Regions from separate parts of the Homo sapiens genome. Here region 1 is linked to region 2. Evidence: fine-mapped expression QTL. A gene starts in region 2. The other region holds a variant in brackets. All regions are shown on one strand. Distances are between the middles of the regions. Region 1 overlaps FOXR1 (forkhead box R1). Region 2 holds the start of RPS25 (ribosomal protein S25).

The links. PIP is the estimated chance that this variant, and not a neighbour inherited with it, causes the effect. A credible set is the group of variants that fine-mapping cannot tell apart.
Region 1: its variant is the best candidate, but not a certain one, in a credible set for the expression of RPS25 in regulatory T cells (Schmiedel 2018, PIP 0.75).

The regions. Positions count from the first base shown.
Region 1 is chr11:118,974,284-118,990,065 of GRCh38, forward strand. FOXR1 (forkhead box R1) reads left to right here. Exons shown (of 6, transcript NM_181721.3): 2 at 4,499-4,573; 3 at 4,674-4,921; 4 at 5,159-5,385; 5 at 6,207-6,445; 6 at 6,925-7,004. The coding sequence ends at 6,953. Among named protein-coding and RNA genes, the nearest start is that of FOXR1, 10 kb to the left of the region's middle. RefSeq lists enhancers at 5,858-6,376, 6,377-6,894. The variant A/ATTT (reference allele first, on the strand shown) is at 8,426.
Region 2 is chr11:119,014,667-119,023,091 of GRCh38, forward strand. It overlaps RPS25 (ribosomal protein S25), which reads right to left and starts at 3,677. Exons shown (of 5, transcript NM_001028.3): 1 at 3,616-3,677; 2 at 3,292-3,387; 3 at 2,696-2,879; 4 at 1,175-1,273; 5 at 1,051-1,092. The coding sequence starts at 3,618. The coding sequence ends at 1,179. It overlaps CENATAC (centrosomal AT-AC splicing factor), which reads left to right. Exons shown (of 11, transcript NM_198489.3): 9 at 328-417; 10 at 641-773; 11 at 872-1,127. The coding sequence ends at 932. It overlaps TRAPPC4 (trafficking protein particle complex subunit 4), which reads left to right and starts at 4,100. Exons shown (of 5, transcript NM_016146.6): 1 at 4,100-4,304; 2 at 4,477-4,651; 3 at 5,484-5,587; 4 at 7,094-7,220. The coding sequence starts at 4,130. RefSeq lists enhancers at 3,399-3,468, 3,489-3,718, 3,973-4,671 and a silencer at 3,959-4,078.

The DNA.
Region 1 (15,782 bases), 37 kb before region 2:
GCACAATTACCTCCAGGCTCAAGCAATGCTCCCACCTCAGTCCCCAAAGTAGCTGCAACCACAGGCACAGGCCACCACACTGGCTAACTTTTTTACTATTTGTAGAGATGGGGATCTCCCTATGTTGCCCAGGCTGGTCTTGAACTCCTGGACTCGAGCAATCCTCCTACCTCCCAAATTGAGCAGAGGAGTGACATGCTCTCAGGGTCTGCTTCATGAGTGTGTGACCCGTGCAGTTGCCTAGGTGCCTGTGTTTGGTTTAATACACTGCTGTCACTGTCTTGAAATTTTTAATAATTTTTCAACGAGGAGCCTCATGTTTTCTTTACTGGACCCTACAAATTATGTGGCTAGTCCTGCATGATCTAGATTTGAAAAGATCACTCTGGCTGTTGTGTTGAGAGTAGACTGTGGATGTACAGAGTCTAGGAGGCTGCAGTAGTAATCCAGACAAGAGATGATGGTAGATTGGGCCAGGGTAGTAGCAGGGAGAACCAGCTGGCTATGCTGATGGATTGGATATGGCGTATAAGACAGACAATTGAGTATGAGCCTTCAAAGTGTTTTGACCTAGTGGAAGGATAGAGTTGCCTTGTACTGAGTGGGAGACAGGTTTAGGAAGGAAGATCAGGAATTCTGTTCTGGATATGCTGAGCTGGAGATCCTTAGACATCCAAGTAGAAGCATTGAGTCTGCAGTTGGATACATGAGCCTGGAGTTCTGGAGAGAAGTGGGGACTGCAGATGTAAATTTTGGGTCTTTTGGTATATGGGTGGAACTTAAGGAGTAAGAATAGAGGAGGAACAAGAATGAGCCCTGGGGGCAGTCCATTGTAAAGAGATTGGAGAGAAGAGAGATAACTAGCAAAAAAGACTATTGAGAATCAAAACTAGGGCGTCTGTGGTATCCTGGAAACCAAGTGGAAAAAGCCTTTCAAGGAGGGAGGGGTTGGATGAGTGGAATGTAAGTGATGATTGGACTTAACAAAGCAGAGGTCCCTGGTTAGTGGTTTTAGTAAGTGGTAGAACAAAAAACCTGACTGAAGGGGGTTTAAGAGTAGAAGGAGGGGAAGTAGAGGCAATGTGTTATGCCTCAACAGGAAATAAGATGGGATAATCTTTTTCTTTTTCTTTCTTCTTTTTTTTTTTTTTAGAGACAGGGTCTCTATCTGGTGCCCAGGCTGGACTGCAGTGGCACCAGCACAGCTCACTGCAGTCTTGAGCAGCCTTGAGCAGCCTTGAGCAGCCTTGAACTCCTCGGCTCAAGTGATCCTCCTGCCTCAGCTTTCCAAAGCAGGCTGAGATTACAAGCATGAGCCACTGCACCTGGTCCCTAAAATGGGAGAATTAACAGCATGTTTGCATGCTGATGAGAATGACCCAACAAAGACAAAAAATTAGTGACACAGGAAAGAGAGGGGAAGATTTGTGGAACAACATCCTTGAAAAAGCATGGGGGATCTGTGCCAAAGAGAGACACAGACATACAAAGGTGCTATCCTTGGGTCGCAATGAGATCACCAGTCCATTGATCCTATCACCTTTTCACTGTTTCAATCACTTGATATGTCCACCCTTATTTAACTAACTTGAATCCCATGGTCAGATATTACGCAGGTTCCCTGGATCATCTGTGGCTTTGGAGCACTTTGTTGGCCAAACCACAACCCTGACTAAATCCACCTCTGCCAAACGAGTGCGCCAAAACCATAATTCAGTGGACTGGTGACCTCAGTGGGATCATAGTTGGGGTTGAGGGAGTTAGCCAGAAAGACACGAGGTGGTGCGTTTTTATGTGGTGCATAAATGAGGTTACGGAGAGGTTGCAGTTGTTGGTTTAGGTTATGCCTGAGGGAGTGTCCACAGTAGAGTAGAAGTCAAACTCGCTGGAGAAGAGTTCAATAAATAGCAAAGATCATGTTTTTGTTTTTGAAGCAAGGTCTGGCTTTGTTGCCCAAGCTGGAGTGCAATAGCGTAAGCTTGGCTCACTGCAACCTCCCTTTTCCCGCTCAAGCCATCCTCCCACTTCAGCCTCCTGAGTAGCTGGGACTACAGGCTCACGCCACCACACTCGGCTAGATTATTATCTTTGTATTTTTTATAGAGATGGGGTTTCACCATGTTGCCCAGGCTGATTTCAAACTCCTGGGCCCAAGCAATCCGCCTGCCTAAGCCTCTTAAAGTGCTGGGATTACAGGCATGAGCCGCTGCACCTGGCCAGCAGCCAAGATTTAAGGCAGGAGTAGTGTTGGAGAGTGACAGCTAAACCAGGAGGTCAGTAGATGGTAGTAACAATGGAGATTGATTAGTATATAAGTTCCTGTATTAACTTGAATATATACATCCAGGAGCAGACAGTAAGGTCGAGTAAATTGTGGTCCTGCCTGATTGCTCTTAACAAGGGCTGCTCCAGTTGATACACAGAACTGCAGTAAAATAAGAGATTCTGTCTCTTTGCATGTTTCTCAACACTTGGTATTATCTTTATAATTCCAGTCAATTTGATTATCTCATTATCTTACAGTGTTTTTCGTATTATTAATAATGCTGATCATCTCGTTAGCCATTCAGTTATCCCCTCCTTGTGAATGCTGATTCATATCATTTGTCCATTTCTAAGTTTGTGTTGACCTTTTACATATTGATTTGTAGGAGCTCTCTATGTATCAGAGAACTGAGAAATTTGGATTGAAGTTTTGCTATTTTGTTTGTTTGTCTATTTGTTTTTTGCTTATGGTGATTTTTACTATGTTAGAACTTTTTTTTGAGACAGAGTCTTGCTGTGTCACCTAGGCTGGAGTGTAGTGGCACGATCTCAGCTCACTGCAACTTCTGCCTCCCAGGTTCAAGTGATTCTCCTGCCTCAGCCTCCCAAGTAGCTGGGACTACAGGTACACACCACCAAGCCCGGCTAATTTTTTGTACTTTTAGTAGAGATGGGGTTTCACCTTGTTGGCCAGGCTGGTCTCAAACTCCTGACCTCAAGTGATCCACCTGCCTCGGCCTCCCAAAGTGCTGGGATTACAGGTGTGGGCCACCGCACCTGGCCAAACTTTAATTTTTGTGCTATAATATGTGCATAAAACTTACAGATTCATTTTGAGGGTAACTGGCATCTTAATAGTATGTATTATAAGTCTTTGTTCAAGTATTTTAAGTTCTTTATTTAAGAGCTGAGATGGGAAGATTGCTTGAGTTGGGAGGTGGAGATTGCAGTGAGCCGGTGTCACACCACTGCACTCCAGCATGGGCAACCAAGCAAGACCCTGTCTCCAAAAAAACCCCAATTTTTCTATCTTTTGCTACTTTTTCCTTTTTTGAATACTATGTTGAATATTAGCAACATAATAGGCATCCTCTCTAATTACTGAGCTCTCCGATAAGTATATCATTTCTCAAACAAAAGCCTAGATTCATCTGTAATATAATGACACTCATAGGGACAGTGAGGGGGCAAAAATAGTTTTTGTCCTGAACAACCATTAATGGTGGTGCCACTTGCTAAGACAAAGAATACAGGAAGGCCAGGCATGGTAGCTCACGCCCGTAATCCCAACACTTTGGGAGCCCGAAGCAGGAGGATTGCTTGAACCCAGGGGTTCGAGACCAGCCCAGGCAACATAGACCCTCATCTATACAAAAAATACAAAAATTGGGCTGGGCGCGGTGGCTCAAGCCTGTAATCCCAGCACTTTGGGAGGGTGAGGCAGGCAGATCATGAGTCAGGAGTTCGACACCAGCCTGGCCAATATGGTGAAACCACGTCTCTACTAAAAAATACAAAAATTAGCCGGGTGTGGTGGCGTGCGCTTGTAGTCCCAGCTTCTTGGGAGGCTGAGGCAGGAGAATCACTTGAACCTGGGAGGCAGAGGTTGCAGTGAGCCAAGATCGCGCCACTACACTCCAGCCTGGGCGACAGAGCGAGACTCCATCTGAAAAAAAAAAAATACAAAAATTAGTGGGGTGCAGTGGCATGTACCTGTAGTTCCAGCTACCTGGGAGACTGAGGTGGGAGAATCTCTTGAGCACACCACTGCACTCCAGCCTGTGCAACAGAGCAAGACCCTGTCTCAAAAAAAATACAAGAATACAGGAGGAAGAGCAAGAAGATGGAATTCAGTTTTAGAAGTGCGTTTGAAGTGCCTGTGGGCTACCCAAGTAAAGACATCCAGTAGGTAGTTCTCCTTAAGGGCTAGCACAGAATGCTAGGCTAGAGGTGAAGATTTGAGAGCTCTACATTTTTTTATAGATGTTAACTGAAGCCACGGACATGCATGAGATCATTCAGGGATAGTATACGTAGAGTGAGAAGAAAAGAATGCAGAGGGGAATGAGAAGGTCAGAGAGGTAAAGGGAAAACCCGTAGAAGTAGAATGTGATGTTAACTCCCAAGGCAGGGCCCACAACCTTCTCCCAGAGAAGCCTTAAGGCCTAGGATCCTAGGGTCACAAAGGGATATTCTAGGATGTTTTGACTCTCTCTGTCTTTCTTTTTGCCAGTTGCCAGGTATAAACTCCGAATTGTTAAGCCACCAAAATTACCCCTAGAGAAAAAACCCAACCCTGATAAGGATGGTACGTATTGAGTTCTCTGACCTGTTTCTGTGGCCTGGGCTGGAGACCAGGGGCACCCAAAGCCAGTGGGCTGTGGCACACAATCTTTTGTTCTGCACAGGTCCAGATTATGAGCCCAACCTCTGGATGTGGGTAAATCCCAACATTGTGTATCCCCCTGGAAAGCTGGAGGTCTCAGGACGTAGGAAGAGGGAGGACCTGACAAGCACACTCCCCTCCTCTCAGCCACCCCAGAAGGAGGAAGATGCCAGCTGCTCAGAGGCCGCAGGGGTGGAATCACTGTCCCAGTCCTCCAGCAAGCGGTCTCCCCCTCGGAAGCGGTTTGCCTTTTCCCCCAGCACCTGGGAGGTATGCATTTTTGGGGATGGGAGTGGGACTTGGGCAGTAGGCGAGGGGCATGGGGAAGAGCCATTACAGTTCTGCTCTCTTAGCCATAGCAAAAGGTGAATGGGTTCAGAAATTACCTACATGCTTGGGTTGGGGAGAAGCCCAAATGGTGGCCTTAGACCACCCCCCCTTCCTGCCACTGCACCCTGGAGTAGAGGCTGAGGAGTCAGGACCAGTTCCTACTCTGTGCTCCTCTAGCTCACAGAAGAGGAGGAGGCTGAGGACCAGGAAGACAGCTCCTCTATGGCTCTCCCATCCCCTCACAAAAGGGCCCCCCTCCAGAGTCGGAGGCTTCGGCAAGCCAGCAGCCAGGCGGGGAGGCTCTGGTCCCGGCCCCCTCTCAATTACTTCCACCTAATTGCCCTGGCATTAAGAAACAGTTCCCCCTGTGGCCTCAACGTGCAACAGATCTACAGTTTCACTCGGTATGTGCCGGGGGCCCTGCGAGGAGGGGGAAGTGGGGGCCAGGGCCCCGGGCTGATGCCTTCCAATCCATCCCAGGCCCTGGGTTGCTGACCTGGTTTCCCTATCTGGGTCTGAGAGGACAAGTATGTTCCCAGTTCCCTTTTCCCAGGTGCATTTGTGCCCACATTGTGCCCACATTTTATGGCTTTAGTTTTTTTTTTCTTTTTAACAAGTTTTCAGTGTTCTTTGGGTATAGTTCTCCTTTAAAACATACATTCACTTGGGTCAGGTAACAGTTTCCCCACCATCCTCTGAAGATCAGCCAGTCTAAAGTCAGGTTTCCCCAACGGTTCCCACCTGCTTCTGCTAGGACTGGACTGCCTGGCACAGCTCCCTGCACCCCCAGGGGTGCAGAGAACCCAGTTGAGAAGGATTTTCCATTTAGCTCAGATAGTCCTGCTCACAGGAGGGTGAGGAAGGGAGTTTCTTGGGCCCTTTCCCAGTGTTAGGAGAAGTGCCTAATGTCTCAGGACAGGAATTTTCAAGTGGTGTCCGTCCTCAACCAAGATTCCTCTTACAGGAGCTGCTTGGCCTGATTCTGCTTTGTTCATGCTGTGGTCCAAGCCCTGGGCCCTCAGAGGGAGGGAGGGTTCAGGTGAGCCACGCACCACGTGGATGCTTTGCCACGTGCTCAGTTAGCAAAGAGCAACTCCAGGCCAACTTGCTACTATCCCCCTGGAGAGAAGGGCTAAAGCCCCTGGCCCCTGGGTAGAACATGCCCCAGAGAAGGGCATTCCCCAGACATAACATGCCTTTCCTTACCTCTCCTCCCTGTCCATAGAAAGCACTTCCCCTTTTTCCGGACGGCCCCGGAAGGCTGGAAGAATACTGTCCGTCACAATCTCTGTTTTCGAGACAGCTTTGAGAAAGTGCCTGTCAGCATGCAGGGCGGGGCCAGCACACGGCCTCGATCTTGCCTCTGGAAGTTGACCGAGGAGGGACACCGCCGCTTTGCGGAGGAGGCCCGCGCCTTGGCTTCCACTCGGCTAGAAAGTATCCAACAGTGCATGAGCCAGCCAGGTGTGAAGACTTGTTGTGCGTGGGCCCAAGGGGAAGAGACCTGAGGATCCTGACCCAAGGCCAAGTGTGGAAGCCTGGGTCACACCGTGGGGGTGGGGGAATGCATCTTCTATAGGAAACAGGGAGATTAACAGTGATCTGAGACCCTCAGGTGATGCCTGCCTGAGGTGAGACCTCCCCCACCAGTGTGGGGCGTGATGTGCCAGGAATCCATGGGCAAACAACTAAGGGGCAACTGGCCTTACCAAGACCAGCAGTCTAGGCAATAGTGAGCACACAACATGAGAAGCACAGTTAATAGAGGTTATGTACAAAGAGTACTTCTACTTTCCCTGGAGCAGTGCAGGGAGGCTTCAGAGAAGAGGCAGCATTTGAGCCTTGAGTGAAAGAAGCAGATGACCTGCTATGAGAGAGCATCCCAGGCCTAGGAAACAGCAATTGTGAAGTATAAACTCCTGAACTCTCTCCTTTTCTTACAGATGTGATGCCCTTCCTCTTTGATCTTTAACCCCAAGAAGCAACAGCCAGCTAATGCTTTATTAAAATTACCCTCACTAGCCTTCTGTGTGTGTCTGTGGAGGTGGGGTCTCTAAGGATGGGGTTAAGGGTGGAGGTGGAGATCAACTCCAAGGTTGGAGATGGAATGCCTTCAGCTTACAGATGCTCCTGAGGCAATGGGGCAGGTGCCTGCCGTGCAGCAAAGGGAGTCCGTAATTTTCTTTCCTCAAAGGAGGAAAATGCACAGCCTTCTAAAGCATCTTGGAGCAATTTCCATTTTTCTGGATTATGAAGATAATCTTGGCTGGATGCAGTGGCTCACACCTGTAATCCAGCACTTTGGGAGGCTGAGGCAGGAGGATCCCTTGAGCACAGGAGGTCAAGGCTGCAGTCGGCCATGATCACACCACTGCACTTTAGCCTGGGCAACAGCAAGACTCCATCTGTAAAAATTATTCTGGGAGATGCCCGTTTGTAGCAGCCAATTCTGTAAGCACCACACATTCATTCAATTGATACTCCTTAAGTGGCTACTGTGTACCAAGCTCAGGATAGAATACAGGTGCCAGGGAGAACTGCGCTGCATTCTCTTAGCTGCAATAGCGTTGAGGGCATTTGCTAAGGGAGCATAGAAAGGTGCTTTGGGGAGGCGCCATGTTTTGTTTTGTTTTGTTTTGTTTTTAAAGCTTACAGATGACTTTTTTGTGTGTGTGTGACAGTTTCACTCTTGCTGCCCAGGCTGGAATGCAATGGTGCAATCTCGGCCTACCGCAACCTTCACCTCCTGGGTTTAAGCGATTCTCCTGCCTCAGCCTCCCAAGTGGCTGGGATTACAGGCATGCACCACAAAGCCCAGCTAATTTTGTGTATTTTTTAGTAGAGACGGGGTTTCTCCATGTTGGTCAGGCTGATCTCGAATTTTCGACCTCAGGTGATCCACCTGCCTTGGCCTCCCAAAGTGCTGGGATTACAGGTGTGAGCCACCACACCCAGCAGGTGACTTTTTTTTTTTGAGACGGAGTCTCACCCTGTTGCCCAGGCTGGAGTGCAGTGGCACAATCTTGGCTCACTGCAACCTCCGCCTCCCAGGTTCAAGCGATCTTCCTGCCTCAGCTTCCCTAGTAGCTGGGATTACAGGCATGCACCACCAGGCCCAGTTAATTTTTGTATTTTTAGTAGAGACAGGGTTTTGCCATCTTGGCCAGGCTGGTTTCCAACTCCTGACTTCAGGTGATCCACCCGCCTTGGCCTCCCAAAGTGCTGGGATTACAGGCGTAAGCCACCACACCTGGCCTCTTGAGTTAATTTCTGTATGGTCAAGGTTCATTTCTGGCTTGTAGATGTCCAATTGCTCAGCCTCCCAAAGTGCTGGATTAAAGGTGTGAGCTGACTATAGCCTCGAACTCCTTGGGCTCGGGCAATTCTCCCACCTCAGCCTCCCAAGGAGCTGGGACTACAGGTGCGTACCACCACACCAGGCTA[A/ATTT]TTTTTTTTTTTTTTTTTTTTTTTTGAGACGGAGTTTTGCTCTTGTTGCCCAGGCTGGAATGCAATGGCACGATCTCTGCTCACTGCAACCTCTACCTCCTGGGTTCAAGCCATTCTCCTGCTGCAGCCTCCCAGGTAGCTGGGATTACAGGCATGCACCACCACACCCAGCTAATTTTGTATTTTTAGTAGAGATGGGGTTTCTCCATGTTGGTCAAGCTGGTCTCAAACTTCCGACCTCAGGTGATCCACGTGCCTCTATCTCCCAAAGTGCTGGCATTACAGGTGTGAGCCATCTCACCCGGCCACACCCGGCTAATTTTTTAAATTTTTTGTAGAGATGGAGTCTCACTCTTTCCCAGGTTGGTCTTGAACTGCTGGGCTCAAGCAATCCACCTGGTTTGGTTTGATTTTTTTTTTTTTTTTGAGATGGGAGTCGTGCTCTGTTGCCCAGGCTGGAGTGCAGTGGCACGATCTCGGCTCACTGCAACCTCCGCCTACCGGGTTCAAGCGATTCTCCTGTCTCAGCCTAGCAAGTAGCTCGGATTACAGGCACATGGCCACCAGGCCCCACTAATTTTTCTATTTTTAGTAGATACGGGGTTTCACCATGTTGGCCAGGTTGGTCTCGATCGCCCTGACGTTGTGATCCGCCTGCCTCAGCCTCCCAAAGTGCTGGGATTACAGGCACTAGCCAACTGATATTTTGTTGACTGAAGATTTCAAACACATACAAAGTCGGTCTAATGAACCCTACATATCTGTCATCCAGCTTCATCTCCCCACAGGCAATGTTATTAACACATTCATTCCCCTTTCCTGGAATTATTGTGTGTGTGTGTGTGTGTGTGTGTGTGTGTGTGTGTGTGTGTGTGTGTGTGTGTTTGAGACGGAGTCTCACTCTGTCACCCAGACTGGAATGCAGTGGCACTATCTCGGCTCACTGCAACCTCCGCCTCCCGGGTTCAAGCAATTCTCCTGCCTCAGCCTACCATGTAGTTGGAATTACAGGTGAGCGCCACCACGCCCAGCTAATTTCTGTATTTTTAATAGAGGGTTTCACCATGTTGCCCAAGCTGGTCTTGAACTCCTGACCTCAAGTGATCCACCTGCCTTGGCCTCCCTGGATTATTTTGAATCAATTTCTAGACATCATTTCTTTTCTCTAAAAAGACTGAACATGATACAATCATCACATCCAGGCCGGGCGCAGTGGCTCAAGCCTGTAATCCCAGCACTTTGGGAGGCCGAGGTGGGCGGATCACAAGGTCAGGAGATCGAGACCATCCTGGCTAACACGGTAAAACCCTGTCTCTACTAAAAATATAGAAAATTAGCTGGGCGTGGTGGCGGGCGCCTGTAGTCCCAGCTGCTTGGGAGGCTGAGGCAGGAGAATGGCATGAACCTGAGAGGCGGAGCTTACAGTGAGCTGAGATCGTGCCACTGCACTCCAGCCTGGGCGACAGAGCAAGACTCCGTCTCAAAAAAAAAAAAAATCACATCCAAAATTTTTAAAAATGTATTAGGAATCATATTCCTAATTTTCTAACTTTTTAAAATTTTTATTTCTTTTAGAGATGAGGTCTCCCTATGTTGCCAAGGCTGGTCTTAAACTCCTGGGCTCCCAAAGTGCTGGGATGACAGGTGTAAGCCACTGTGCCTGGCCCTAATTTTCTATTTTCTTAGCTTATTAGCTGAAATACTTCTGTAGAAAAATCTTCCTCTCTCAGGCCGGGCACAGTGGTTCATGCCTGTCATCCTGGCACTTTGGGATGCCAAGGCAGGCGGATCACCTGAGGTCATGAGTTGGAGACCAGCCTGGTCAACGTGGTGAAACCCCGTCTCTACTAAAAATACATTAGCCAGGCGTGGGGCACAAGCCTGTAATCCCAGCTACTCGGGGACTGAGGCAGGAAGATCACTTGAACCCAGGAGGTGGAGGTTGCAGTGAGCAGAGATCACGCCACTGCACTCCAGCCTGAGTGACAGAGGGAGACTTCGTCTCAAAAGAAAAATAGGGCCTGAGTTTCATTACCCTTCGCCATGCTGTTTGTCTCCAGCACACCCTCAGGAAAAGCTACTTGTGGAATAAGAGTCCTTGAGGCTGCAGGTCCCAGCTGGGGGGCTGTGGCCTCCCTGGTTGCAGGGGACAGCCTCAGGGCAGGGACAGCTGGCAGCCTTAGATCTGTGGGGAATAGGGAGAAGCCTGAGGACAAGGAAGGAATGAGTGAGGTTCAGGGCTGTTTAGGGATCCCACAGACACTCAGTGCTTAGAGACGATGCCAGATCTCACTCCCTCTCCGCTCTTCCCTCCTGCCCAACAGGCCTGCACAGAAACAAAGCTCTGCCTTCAAGGCCACCACTGCCCACCTGGGCTGGGCATAACTCCTGTCTTGAAGTGGCAGTGGGTGGTGCTTCACTCTTGAGAGAGTGGCTCCCTTGTCCAGAGGGCTCCCAGGTCTCTGCAACTGACCAGGGTTGAGGTAGTCTCACTTTTTCATTTTTCCTCCCTGCTTTCCTTGCTGGTAACTCCAATCTGATGTAGCTCCCGCCTCCTCATTTAAATTTTTATTTATTTTTCGTTTTGTCTTTGAGATAGGGCCCTTCAGTGGCACAATCACAGTTCATGTGCAGCCTTGAACTCCTGGACTCAAGCAATCCTCCACCTCCTGGGTTCAAGCAGTTCTCCTGCCTCAGCCTCCCGAGTAGCTGGGATTACAGACGCCCGCCACCACATCGGCTAATTTTTTGTATTTTTAGTAGAGATGGGGTTTCACCGTATTGTTCAGGCTGGTCTCAAACTCCTGACCTCAGGTGATCCACCTGCCTCGGCCTCCTAAAGCGCTGGGATTGCAGGCGTGGCCACCGCACCCAGCCTGGATGCTGATTTCTAAGTGATAGCCACTGCAGGAGTGGGTGAGGGGGACCAGGTCAGGTCATTTGCTCTGGGCCCACCCAGAGCTATCCGGCAGCCAGAGCCTCTTTCCTGCCACCCGAGTCTATTCAGCTCCCAGGAAGGAGGGGTCCTGAGTCCCAAGCTCTGCTTTCATCTGATTTGGCCTCAATTTGTCCCCATCATCTGCACTTCGTATACAGCCTTATCGCTGTGCACATTCTTGTTAACATCAGGGATTTTTTTGCTTTGTTTTTGTTTTTTGAGATGGAGTCTCACCCTGTTGCCCAGGCTGGAGTGCAATGGAGCAATCTCATCCCATTGCAACTTCCGCCTCCCAGGTTCAAGCGATTCTCCTGCCTCAGCCTCCCAAGCAGCTGGGACTGCAGGCGTGCACCACCGTATCTGGCTAATTTTTGTATTTTACTAAAGACGAAGTTTCATCATGTGGCCCAGGCTGGTCTCAAACTCCTGAGCTCTGGCAATCCACTCGCCTCGGCCTCCAACAGTACTAGATTACAGGTGTGAGCCACCACACCTGGCCAACATCAGGTTTAAGTTGCAAGTGGATCCCAAAATGCAGCAGATCAGAAAGAAAGTACAAAACAATACAGCGTTTACTAAGAAAAAATCTGCCTTTGCCCACTTTGCTCTCAACTCCTATACTTGCACCTAGTTTTCACTTATCAATTATTTTGTTATTTTTCTTTTTTTAGGCAGGATCGCAATCCCGGCTCACTGCAACCTCCACCTCCCAGGTTCAAGCAATTCTGCTGCCTCAGTCTCCTGAGTAGCTGGGACCACAGGCATGTGCCATCACGTCCTGCTAATTTTTGTATTTTTAGTAGAGATGGGGTTTCACCATGTTGCCCAGGCTGGTCTTGTACCCTCCCTGAGGTCAAGTGATCCACCCACGTCAGCCTCTCAAAGTGTTGGGATTACAGGTGTGAGCCACCGTGCCTAGACTTCAACAATTATTTGTTACGCATTTTCACTATACCAGGCCCTTGCCAGGTGTTAGGGATACAGCAAAGAAACCCAAATGGTTCCTCACAGTTTTCAGTCTAGATGTAAAGATACTAAACCAATACACTAATTATGTGCAATAATGCACAATGGTAATATTGAGTAAAGATTGGGTTATTGGCCAAGCATGGTGGCTCATGCCTGTAATCCCAGCACTTTGGGAGGCCAAAGCAAGATCGCCTGAGGTCAGGAGTTCAAGACCAAGCCTGGCCAACATGGTGAAACCCTGTCTCTACAAAAATACAAAAATTAGCTGGACATGATGGTGGGTGCTTATAATCCCAGCTACTCGGGAGGCTGAGGCGGGAGAATCACTTGAACCTGAGAGGCGGAGGTTGCAGTGAGAAGAGATCATGCCATTACACTCCAGCCTGGGCAACAGAGTGAGACTCCTTCTCAAAAAAAAAAAAAAAAAAAAAGATGGAGTTATTTTGAGAGAAAGCAATATTGGCATCTAATTTAGATTGGAGGGGAGATCAGAGAGGACCTTTCTAAGAAAGTGACATTTTAACTGAGACCTGTAGCATGAGGAGAAGTTAGCCAGGCTGAAGAACAGAAAGGAAAAGCATTCCTTTACTTTTTTTTTTTTTTTTTGAGACAGAGTCTTGTGCCGTCACCCAGGCTGGAGTGCAATGGCACAATCTTGGCCCACTGCAACCTCTGCCTCCCGGGTTCAAGCTTCTCCTGCCTCAGCCTCCCGAGTAGCTGGGATTACAGGGGCACACCACCACACCCGGCTAACTTTTTGTACCTTTAGTAGAGACAGGGTTTTACCATGTTGGCCAGGCTGGTCTTGAACTCCTGACCTCGTGATCTCCCTGCCTTGGCTTCCCAAAGTGTTGGGATTACAAGCATAAGCCACCGCCCCAGGCCGGAGGAAAAGCATTCTAATAGAGGCATTAGAATGGACAAAGCCCTGGAGGTAGAGACATACCTTGGCCTTTTGAGCAAACGGGATAAGACCATGGAAGAGAGAATACACTAAACAAGGGCAGAAAGATCCAAGGTAAAACTGGGAGAGGGGCAGGGTAGGCTTTCCTAGGCTATGACAGGGCATTTGGATTTTTTTCCAGTATGGTGGAAAGTAATTGAAGTAACTTACATAACTGTTTGTTGTTGTCGTTGTTAATCACAATTAGCCATTCATTGAAAGTGGCTTGTTGTGGGGAGAAGCCAACATGGAAGCAGGAACACCCATTAGGAGGTGACTGCGGTAAATCAGGCCGGTTGGAGGAGTAGTGGCAGTAGAGATGGAGACAGGGAGAAGAACAATTTGATGATGCATCGTGGAGGTCGAAAAAACAAGTCAATAGTAGTGACTGCAGGAGAAGAAAAGGCAAGAATGGCCGGGCGTGGTGGCTCACGCCTGTAATCCTAGCACTTTGGGAGGCTGAGGCAGCCGGATCACGAGGTCAGGAGATCGAGACCATCCTGGCTAACACAGTGAAACCCCATCTCTACTAAAAATACAAAAAATTAGCCGGTGTGGTGGCAGACGCCTGTATTCCCAGCTACTCTGGAGGCTGAGGCAGGAGAATGGCATGAACCTGGGAGGTGGAGCCTGCAGTGAGCCCAGATCGCGCCACTGCACTCCAGCCTGGGTGACAGAGCGGGACTCTGTCTCAAAAAAAAAAAAAAAGAAGGAAAAGGCAAGAATGACTCTGAGGTTTTTGGTTTGAGCAAGTAGGTGAATGGTGAGGAGAGGAAGCCTGCAGGAGTAGCAGGTTTGAGCGTTCTGTGTTTAGTATCTGTGAGACAAGTCCGGGCACGATGGCTCACACCTGTAATCCCAGTACTTGGGGAGGCAGAGGTGGGTGGATCACTTGAGCCCAGGAGTTGGAAACCAGCCTGGGCAACCTGGTGAGACCTCCTCTCTACAAAAAATAAATAAGCTGGGCGTGGTGGCGTGTGCCTGTGGTCCCAGCTACTTGGGAGGCTGAGGTGGGAGGATTGCTTGAGCCCAGGGGGATCAAGCCTGCAGTGAGTCATAATTGTGCCACTGCACTCCAGCCTGAGTAGTGACAGAGCAAGATCCTGTCTCCAATTAAAAAAAAAAAAAAAGGAATCTGTGAGGCCAGGGGCGGTGGCTCACACCTATAATCCCAGCACTTTGGGAGGCTGAGGTGGGAGGATCACTGAGTTCAGGAGTTTGAGACCAGCCTGGCCAACATGGTGAAACCCCGTCTCTACTAAAAATGCAAAAATTAGCCAGGTACGGTGGCTCACGCTTGTAATCCCAGCACTTTGGGAGGCTGAGGCAGGCGGATCATGAGGTCAGGAGTTTGAGACCAGACTGGCCAACAGGGTGAAACCCTGTCTCTACTAAAAATACAAAAATTAGCTGGGCGTGGTGGCGGGCGCCTGTAATCCCAGATACTTGGGAGGCTGAGGCAGGAGAATCGTTTGAACCCAGGAGGCAGAGGTTGCAGTGAGCCGAGATCGCGCCACTGCACTCCAGCCTGGGTGACAGAGCTAGACACTGTCTCAAAAAAAGAAAAAGAAAAAAAAAAATAGCCAGACGTGGTGGCACGCGCCTGTAATCCCAGCTACACAGGAGACTGAGACAAGAGAATTGCGTGAACCCAGGAGGCAGAAGTTGCCCTGAGCTGAGATCACACAGCTGCACTCCAGCCTGGGTGACAGAGCAAGACTCCATCTCAAAAAAAAAAGCGGGGGGGTGGGGCCGGGCACAGTGGCTCACGCCTGTAATCCTAGCACTTTGGGAGGCCGAGGTGGGTGGATCACCTGAGGTGGGGAGTTCGAGACCAGCCTGATCAACACGGAGAAACCCCGTCTCTACTAAAAAAAAAAAAAAAAATACAAAATTAGCTGGGTGTGGTGGCACATGCCTGTAATCCCAGCTACTTGGGAGGCTGAGGCAGGAGAATTGCTTGAGCTTGAACCCAGGAGGCGGAGGTTGTGGTGAGCTGAGCTCACGCCATTGCACTCCAGCCTAGGCAACAAGAGCAAAACTCCATCTCAAAAAAAAAAAAAAAAGGAATCTGTGAGACATCAGGGTGGTTATGTCAATGTCAAGTAGATATTTATAAGTCTAGAGTTCAGAAGAGAAGTCTGAGCTGAAAATGTAAATACACTGAGAGTCATCAGTATATAGATAGCACTTAATATCAAGTTCTATGTACTGACATAGAAAGATATCCACAAGGCCAGGCACGGTGACTCACGCCTGCAATCCCAGCACTTTGGGAGGCCGAGGCGGGTGGATCACTTGAGTTCGAGAGTTCGAGACCCGCCTGACCAACATGGAGAAACCCTGCTTCTATTAAAAATACAAAATTAGCCAGGCGTGGTGGTGCATAGCTGTAATCCCAGCTACTCGGGAGGCTGAGGCAGGAGAATCGCTCAAACCCGGGAGGCGGAGGTTGTTGTGAGCTGAGATGGCACCATTGCACTCCAGCCTGGGCAACAAGAGTGAAA
Region 2 (8,425 bases):
CTGGACATGAAAATATTTTAATGGGGGCAGTGATACTTACAGGGGGATGTTTGGGGTCTAGATTGTAATGGCTTCGCTCAAAAGTCACCAAATTTAAGTGTGTATCGTTTATGTCAGTTGTGCCTCAAAGCCATTTTAAAATGACTGTCACATATGGGGTATGTCGCTTTAAATTAGCCTAGGGCCTTCTAAAGCTCCAGAATTCCTGGGCTTTGCTTTTAGACATTTCTAGCTCTTAATGAGGAGAGGTAAGCTAACAGCTAGGACATGTTTCACAATAGCCTGAAGACTTAAAAAAAAAAAAAAAAGCCTTAATTTTTTTTTCAGGTGCCACACCTCCCTGGATGATCCAAGATGAAGAATACATTGCTGGGAACCAAGAAATAGGACCATCCTATGAAGAATTTCTTAAAGAAAGTAAGTAAACTAATTCAAGAGAGGATCGTCTAAATCTTCACACTCAAAAATGGTTTCCTTGCCTGTGTGTGGTGGCTCATGGCTATAATCCTAGCATTTTGGGAGGCTGAGGTGGGAGGGTCACTTGAGCCCAGAAGTTTGAAAACAGCCTGGACAACATAGTGAGACCCCATCTCTATATTCTTCAATAAAGAAAAATAAAAGTTTCCCTATCATTGTACAGAGGAAAAACAGAAGTTGAAAAAACTCCCCCCAGACCGAGTTGGGGCCAACTTTGATCACAGCTCCAGGACCAGTGCAGGCTGGCTGCCCTCTTTTGGCCGCGTCTGGAATAATGGACGCCGCTGGCAGTCCAGGTATGTGTGTTCAGTGCCGGGTCTCCAACCTACCCATCCAACCTCCTTTTTGGAGATGTCACCCTTCATCATCGTGTTAACCCTTTATTTCCTTTCAGACATCAATTCAAAACTGAAGCTGCAGCAATGAAGAAGCAGTCACATACAGAAAAAAGCTAATCATGCTCTCTACCAACTACCATGAGGCTAAAAGCAAAGTCAACAAACCCCTATTATACCTTCCACCAAATTCTTTATCATTGTCTTTCTTAGGAAACAGACATACTCATTCATTTGATTTAATAAAGTTTTATTTTTCCAAATGTACAGCTGGTTGGACCTGTAAAAAAAAATTAAAAGAATCAGAACCATAAAGCTTTGTATCTACCTCCTACACCATGAGCCCACACATTCCTACTCACCTATTCATGCATCTTCACCAGCAGCTGGAGCATCTCCACCCTTGGTATTTCTGGTGTAAATTACTTGAGCTCTGTGCTTTGAAACCAGTTTGATAAGTCCTAGGGGGAGAGAATAGCACGATGAGATGCTTAACAGATGCTACAATAGAAACTAGTAAGGTTTTTGGCTGGGCGCGGTGGCTCATGCTTATAATCCCACTGCTTTGGGAGGTGGAGACGGGCAGATAGCTTGAGGTAAGGAGTTGCACACCAGCCTGGCCAACAAGGTGAAACCCCATCTCTACCAAAAATACAAAAATTAGCTGGGCATGGTGGCACATGCTTGTAATTCCAGCTACTTGGGAAGCTGAGGTGAGGACCACCTGAACCCAGGAATTGGTGGTTGCATTGAGCCAAGACTGCCCCTCCGCACTCCAACCTGGGCAACAGAATGAGACTCTAGTAAGGTTTGTTTTGGCCGGGTGCAGAGGCTCATGCCTGTAATCCCAGCACTTTGGACAGGTGGATCTCTTGAGCCCAGGAGACCAGCCTGGGCAACATGGCAAAACCGCATCTCTATTTAAAGAAAAGGAAAACAAAAAGACAGAGTTCTCTCAGAGGTGCCCAGAATGGTCTTAAAACTCCTTGGCTCAAATGATCCTCCTGCTTTGGCCTCCCAAGTAGCTAGAAATACAAGGGTACCACTGCACCTGGCTCCAGAATTGCTTAATCTGACGTTCGGTAACCGAGAATCCTAGTTTTTAACGATCATCTATCCTTACTTTTCCTTTAAATTAGGGCTCCATTATCTTCCACCCCCCCCCCCTTTCTGAGACAGTCTTTTGCTGTCACTAAGGCTGGAGTGCAGTGGTGTCATCTCGGCTCACTGCCACCTCCATCTCCTGGGTTCAAGGGATCCTCATGCCTCAGCATCCTGAGTAGCTGGGATTACAGACGTGTGCCCCCACGTCCAGCTAACTTTCAGTAGAGCAGGTTTTCACCATATTGGCCAGGCTGGTCTTTAACTCCTGACCTCCGTTGATTCACCCGCCTTGGCCTCCCAAAGTGCTAGAATTATAGACGTTCAGTCACTATAGTTAGCTGAGCCTTATTATTGTGGAATTATGGTAATCAGACCATACTACTGAGTAGACCGTACTAAATTTCTGGTTTTAAAATTTAATACATCAACAAAATATTTACCATAAAGGTTTTAAACATTTTCAAAGTTGTTTCAAAATAGTAATCTAATTATTTCAAAAACGGTTGTCCCTGTAATTCTATGCATCCATTTACTCGAAACATAAAAGATCCTTGGGCTTCACTAAACTGCCACAGGGTCCACGGCACAAAAGTGGCTAAGAACCCTGAGAATTCATCTCAGGATCAGGAGTAAGACGTCAGAATTACATTACTAACAGCCAATGGTCAAGCCACGCTTTTTTTTTTTAATTCTGCTTTTCCAGCAAAACCACTGAAGATGCTTAACATGGTCAAGACAATTTAACCTACAAAAACACACATGTAGGATACACCCCTCACCTTTACTAAGGAGCTCCTGAAGGGCTGCCCTGGCCAGGGAGCCTCGAATCTTCAGTCTCTCAGAGACCACAGCTGGGGTTATAAGTTTATAGTTGGGAACTTCCTTACAGAGTTTATCATAGGTAGCTTTGTCAAACAAGACTAAGTTATTGAGCTTGTCCCGAACTTTGCCTTTGGACCACTTCTGCTCACCAAAACAAAACAGAAACAAGTTAGTATTTCTGGCAGAAGCACCCTTTCCCTCTCGAGTAATCTGCGTCAGAGAAATCTGTTCCACCGTTATCAAGGATAAATTACACATTACTAAAACAAAAACAAAAAAAAAACACCGACACGTTTTTGGCCTTCAAACAGGGGCCGAGCCCCACTAGATCAGTTAAAAATAACACAGCAGGCACAGCGGCAGACACTTCGCACAACAGACCCATTTTCATGATCCTAATGGGAAAAAGAACGAGTGGTGACGGGAAGATAAACTCTCACATTTTGACTCTAGAAATCTACACCTGAAAAACCACTTACTATACAAGTTACCTATTACTAGAGGATTACGAGAGAGTTACCCCTAGTCTCTTTCAGAGAGGTCTTATTTCTACCTTCTTTTTGGCCTTGCCCCCGGATTTGTTCACTGGGTCTTTGTCTTTCTTGGCCGACTTTCCAGCGTCCTTCTTCTTCTTGTCGTCCTTAGGCGGCTGTAGGAGGGCAGCGGGAATGCAACCAGGTCCTCAAATAGCGCCAAAGTCCCCTAATACTGCGCCCTCAGCCCCCGCAAACTCCACCACCAGAGCACATGGGCCAAGCAATAACCGCGCCCGCCCTGCAACCGAGGCCGGCAGGCCAAGGAGCGCTCCCGCCGAAGGCTCTCCCCACTGAGTCCTCAAACCCAAGAACGCCGGCGACTTCACACCCCTGAAGCTTACCATTGCGAAGCTCGGAGAATAGCAGCAGACACCGCAGCCTCGTCAAGATGTCGGACAAAAAGGAAGCGCTGCTCAGAAACGGGCCCAAAAACCACCGTCCGCTGTGAGTACTTCCGGGGCAAAAGGCGGAGCCAGGCAGAAGAAGTCCCACGGCGAAGCGCTCGCCCTCTAGCCTGAGGCGGAAGACAGGAAGTGGATTCTAGTTCCCAAGCCGCACCGCCTAAATACTGCCGGAGTCTGCGCTAGTTGTGACGCATACTATAGCGCTGTTTTCCTGCACTGATAAACGAAAAGCAATCCACCAGGTCTCGGCAGCTAACTTTCCGGCACTACTTATGCCCGAGCGTGTCGCTCCCAGTGCGCAAGTGCAGCAGGTGGCTGCACGGGGGGCGCGGGAGGAGGAGGAGGAGGAGGAGGAGGCTGGGGTGGGGCCGGCGGCAAGTGCTGTGATGCGGTTCCGGGGAGGGGCCGTCGGGTAGAGGCTGAATACCAGTTTCCGAGCGGCAAGGCAGCGATGGCGATTTTTAGTGTGTATGTGGTGAACAAAGCTGGCGGCTTGATTTACCAGTTGGACAGCTACGCGCCACGGGCTGAGGCTGAGAAAACTTTCAGTTATCCGCTGGATCTGCTGCTCAAGCTACACGATGAGCGTGTGTTGGTTGCTTTCGGCCAGCGGGACGGCATCCGAGGTGGGCTAGGCTCGGGCCCGTGGCGGGTGCGGGGGTGGGAGGGCCCCAGTGCTGTAGAAGTGGGCTGGTTGTAGGTGCGGGGTTGGGGGAAAAGGGGTTGTGTCGGGTCCCTTGTCCCCTCGGCGGAATCCCCGGGCTGCACCTTCGCTGACCGTTAGCTTCACCTCTGCAGTGGGTCATGCAGTGCTGGCCATCAATGGCATGGACGTGAATGGCAGGTACACGGCCGACGGGAAAGAGGTGCTGGAGTATCTGGGTAACCCTGCTAATTACCCGGTGTCCATTCGATTTGGCCGGCCCCGCCTCACTTCTAATGAGAAGCTTATGCTGGCCTCCATGTTCCACTCGTAAGTCCCCCGTCTCCTGAACGGCAGCGCTTGTAATTTGTCTACCTTTTCTTAAATCGTCGTTCTGGTGTTATGAAAAACGCAACCGATCCAGATCTAGATTTTAGGTAATAACGGCAGTGGTGTCATCTTTTTTTGCTGGGTGGGGAGGGGCCGCGGAGTTACCCAGGCTGGAGCGCAGTGGCGGGATCTCGGCTCACTGCAGCCTCTGCCTCCCAGGTTCAAGCGATTCTCCTGCCTCAGCCTCCCGAGTAGCTGGGATTACAGGCGCGTGCCACCACGACCAGCTAATTTTTGTATTTTTAGTAGAGAGGGGTTTTGCCATGTTGGCCAGGCTGGTCTCAAACTCCTGACCTCAGGTGATCCACCTGCCTCGGCTTCCCAAAGTGCTGGGATTACAGGAGTGAGCCACCGCGCCCGGCCGAGGTGTCATCTTACTTAAAGTCAACTTCTCTTCTCTGAGCCTTAGTTTCTTCATATTTAAAGAAAGCCAGTTTAACTAAATGACCTTTAAACTTTTTCTGCTCTCAATTGTGATATCAGATGTGCCGGCCTTTGCTTAAACACAAGCTTAGTAAGCGTGGCACATATTCCTAGAGTATTCATTTTACCCAAAGTTTTAGATGTAAAATGTCTTGTAACAAAGTATGAATGTAAAATATTCACAGAATTCAAATGAACTTAGAAATTTTGACACTACTGCCAGTCAGTTCACACTACTTCTCCTGACTGTCCCAGGCTGTAATGTGAACTCCTCAGCAAATAGGGACACTTCAGTGGAAGTTTGAGAAGCACTCCTTCCTTAGAGCAACTTTGCCTCCTTTGCATATAGGCTCTTTGCCATCGGCTCCCAGCTGTCTCCTGAACAGGGAAGCTCAGGCATTGAGATGCTGGAGACAGACACATTCAAATTGCACTGCTACCAGACACTGACAGGTATGCATCTCCACGGAGGCCAGAGGAGTGTGATGGAGAAGGTGGGGAAGAGATACTGATAAGTTTGCATCTCCAGGTGGGCCAGAGGAGTGTGGTGGAGAAGGTGGGAGGAGGGGGTTGACCAAAGACACCTTTGGTAAGCAAGAAGAGGGGGTGTGCTTTTCCTGGCACAATTCTTTTTTTTTTTGAAATGTTTCACTCTTGTTGCCCAGGCTGGAATGCAGGGGCATGATCCGCCCCCTGGGTTCAAGCGATTCTCCTGCCTCAGGCTCCCAAATAGCTGGGATTACAGGCATGTGTCACCACACCCGGCTAATTTTTCTGTTTTTATTAGAGATGGTGTTTCTCCATATTGGTCATGGTGGTCTCAAACTCCCGACCTCAGGTGATTGCCCGCCTCCCAAAGTGTTGGGATTACAGGCGTGAGCCACCACACCCGACCCACAGTTCTTTTTTTTTTTTTTTTTTTTGAGATGCAGTTTCACTCTGCCACTCAGGCTGGAGTGTAGTGGCATGATCTTGGCTCACTGCAGCCACCACCTCCTGGGTTCAAGCAATTCTCCTGCCTCAGCCTCCCAAGTAGCTGAGACTACAGATGCCCGCCACCACACCCAGCTAATTTTTTGTGGGGTTTTTTTGTTTTGTCTTGTTTTGAGATGGAGTCTTGCTCTGTCACCCAGGCTAGAGTGCAGTGGCGCGATGTTGGCTCACTGCAGCCACCACTACCCGGGTTCAAGCAATTCTCCTGCCTCAGCCTCCTGAGTAGCTGGGATTACAGGCATCCGCCACACGCCCAGCTAATTTTTGTATTTTTTAGGAGAGATGGGGTTTCACCATGTTGGCCAGGCTGGTCTCGAACTCCTGACCTCAGGTGATCCACCTGCCTCTGCCTCCCACAGTGCTGGGATTACAGGCATGAGCCACCGCGCCCGGCCTTCCTGGCACAATTTTATAGACACATCTGTTTGTTTGTTTTGTGAATACAAAACCAATATTTAATCTGAAACTGATTTTGTCCATGCCACCCAGCATGTTCAGCAGAGGTTATCTTGTGTTCAGATAAAACTCACCTTAATGCTATTTCCTGTTGCGTGTACTTTGGAAGGTGTTAAGTGTTTTTCCAAAATGAAATTTGAAAGCAAAATGGATATGACCTTTGGATTGCCAGTGTCATTGCTTCACCCTCTTCATTTATTGAAAACTGCCTGACTTTGTCCCCTGCCTGGCAATGTTTCTGCTGAGGGACTCCAAAACTGTTAGTAAGTGGCAGAGCTAGAACTCAAAGCCTGGTCTTAATCAGGTGGGTGACATAACAAAGTTACTTCACTTCTCTGGTCTCATCGGTAGATTCAAAGTCTTGCCTTTCCTGCATTATGTGGTAAAAAGAATAAAATTAAAATAGGCTTATGAAAGTGTTTTGCAAAATTGAAAGTGCTGTACAAATACAGGATGACACTATTTGCTCCAGTGTCTACGCTTTGGTAACCATTCTTGGTCTCTCTCCAGGGATCAAGTTTGTGGTTCTAGCAGATCCTAGGCAAGCTGGAATAGATTCTCTTCTCCGAAAGATTTATGAGATTTACTCAGACTTTGCCCTCAAGAATCCATTCTATTCCTTAGAAATGCCTATCAGGTAAGTGGCCCCACTTCCCAGATACTGTTTAAAGCGTCCTTGCCCCTCCCTGTGTGCTCTGTCCAAAGTTAGCTGAAGCATAGTAGAGTATTACTTTTTTTGTTTGTTTGTTTTTGAGACGGAGTTTCGCTCTTGTTGCCCAGGCTGGAGTGCAATGATGCGATCTTGGCTCGCTGTAACCTCTGCCTCCCGGGTTCAAGCGATTCTCCTGGCTCAGCCTCCTGAGTAGCTGGGATTGGATGCATGTGCCACCACGCCTGGCTAATTTCATGTTTCTAGTAAAGACAAGGTTTCACCATGTTGGTCAGGCTGGTCTCAAACTCCCGGCCTCAGGTGATCCACCTGCCTTGGCCTCCCACAGTGCTGGGATTACAGGCGTGAGCCACTGCGCCCGGCCGAGTATTACTTTTAAGTAAGACACAAGGAAAGGCCGGTGGCTCACGTGTGTAATCTCAGCACTTTGGAAGACGGAGAGGGTAGGATCACTTCAGCCCAGGAGTTTGAGATCAGCCTGGACAACATAGAACCCCATCTTTACAAAAAAAAAAAAAATTAGCCTGGTGTGGTGGCGGACACCTGTAGTGCCAGCTATTAAGGAAGCTGAGGCGGGAGGATTGCTTAAACCTGGAAGGTCAAGGCAGCAGTGAACCATGCTCGTGCCACTGCATTCCAGCCTGGGCAACAGAACAAGACCGTGTCTCTAAATAAATAAGACAACAGTAGCTGGGTGCAGTGGCTCACGCCTGTAATCCCAGCACTTTGGGAGGCTGAGGCGGGCGGATCACTTGAGGTCAGGAGTTTAAGACCAGCCTGGTCAACATGGTGAAACCCCATCTCTGCTAAAAATACTGAAAATACAAAAATTAGCCAGGTGTGGTCGTGTGCACCTGCAATCCCAGCTACTCAAGTAGGCTGAGGCAAGCAGAATCGCTTCAATCTGGGAGGAAAAGGTTGCAGTGAGCTGAGATCGTGCCACTGATTCCAGCCTGGGTGACTATTTAGAGAAAACAGACTTTCCTTGGTGTTTATGTCATTTTTGTTTGTTTGTTTGTGGGGTTTTTTTTGTTGATGTTTTTTTTTTTTTTTTTTTTTTTGAGACTGAGCTTCACTCTTAACCACCCAGGCTGGAATGCAATGGTGCCATCACGGCTCACCACAACCTCTGCCTTCCGGGTTCAGGCGATTCTTTTGTCTCAGCCTCCGGA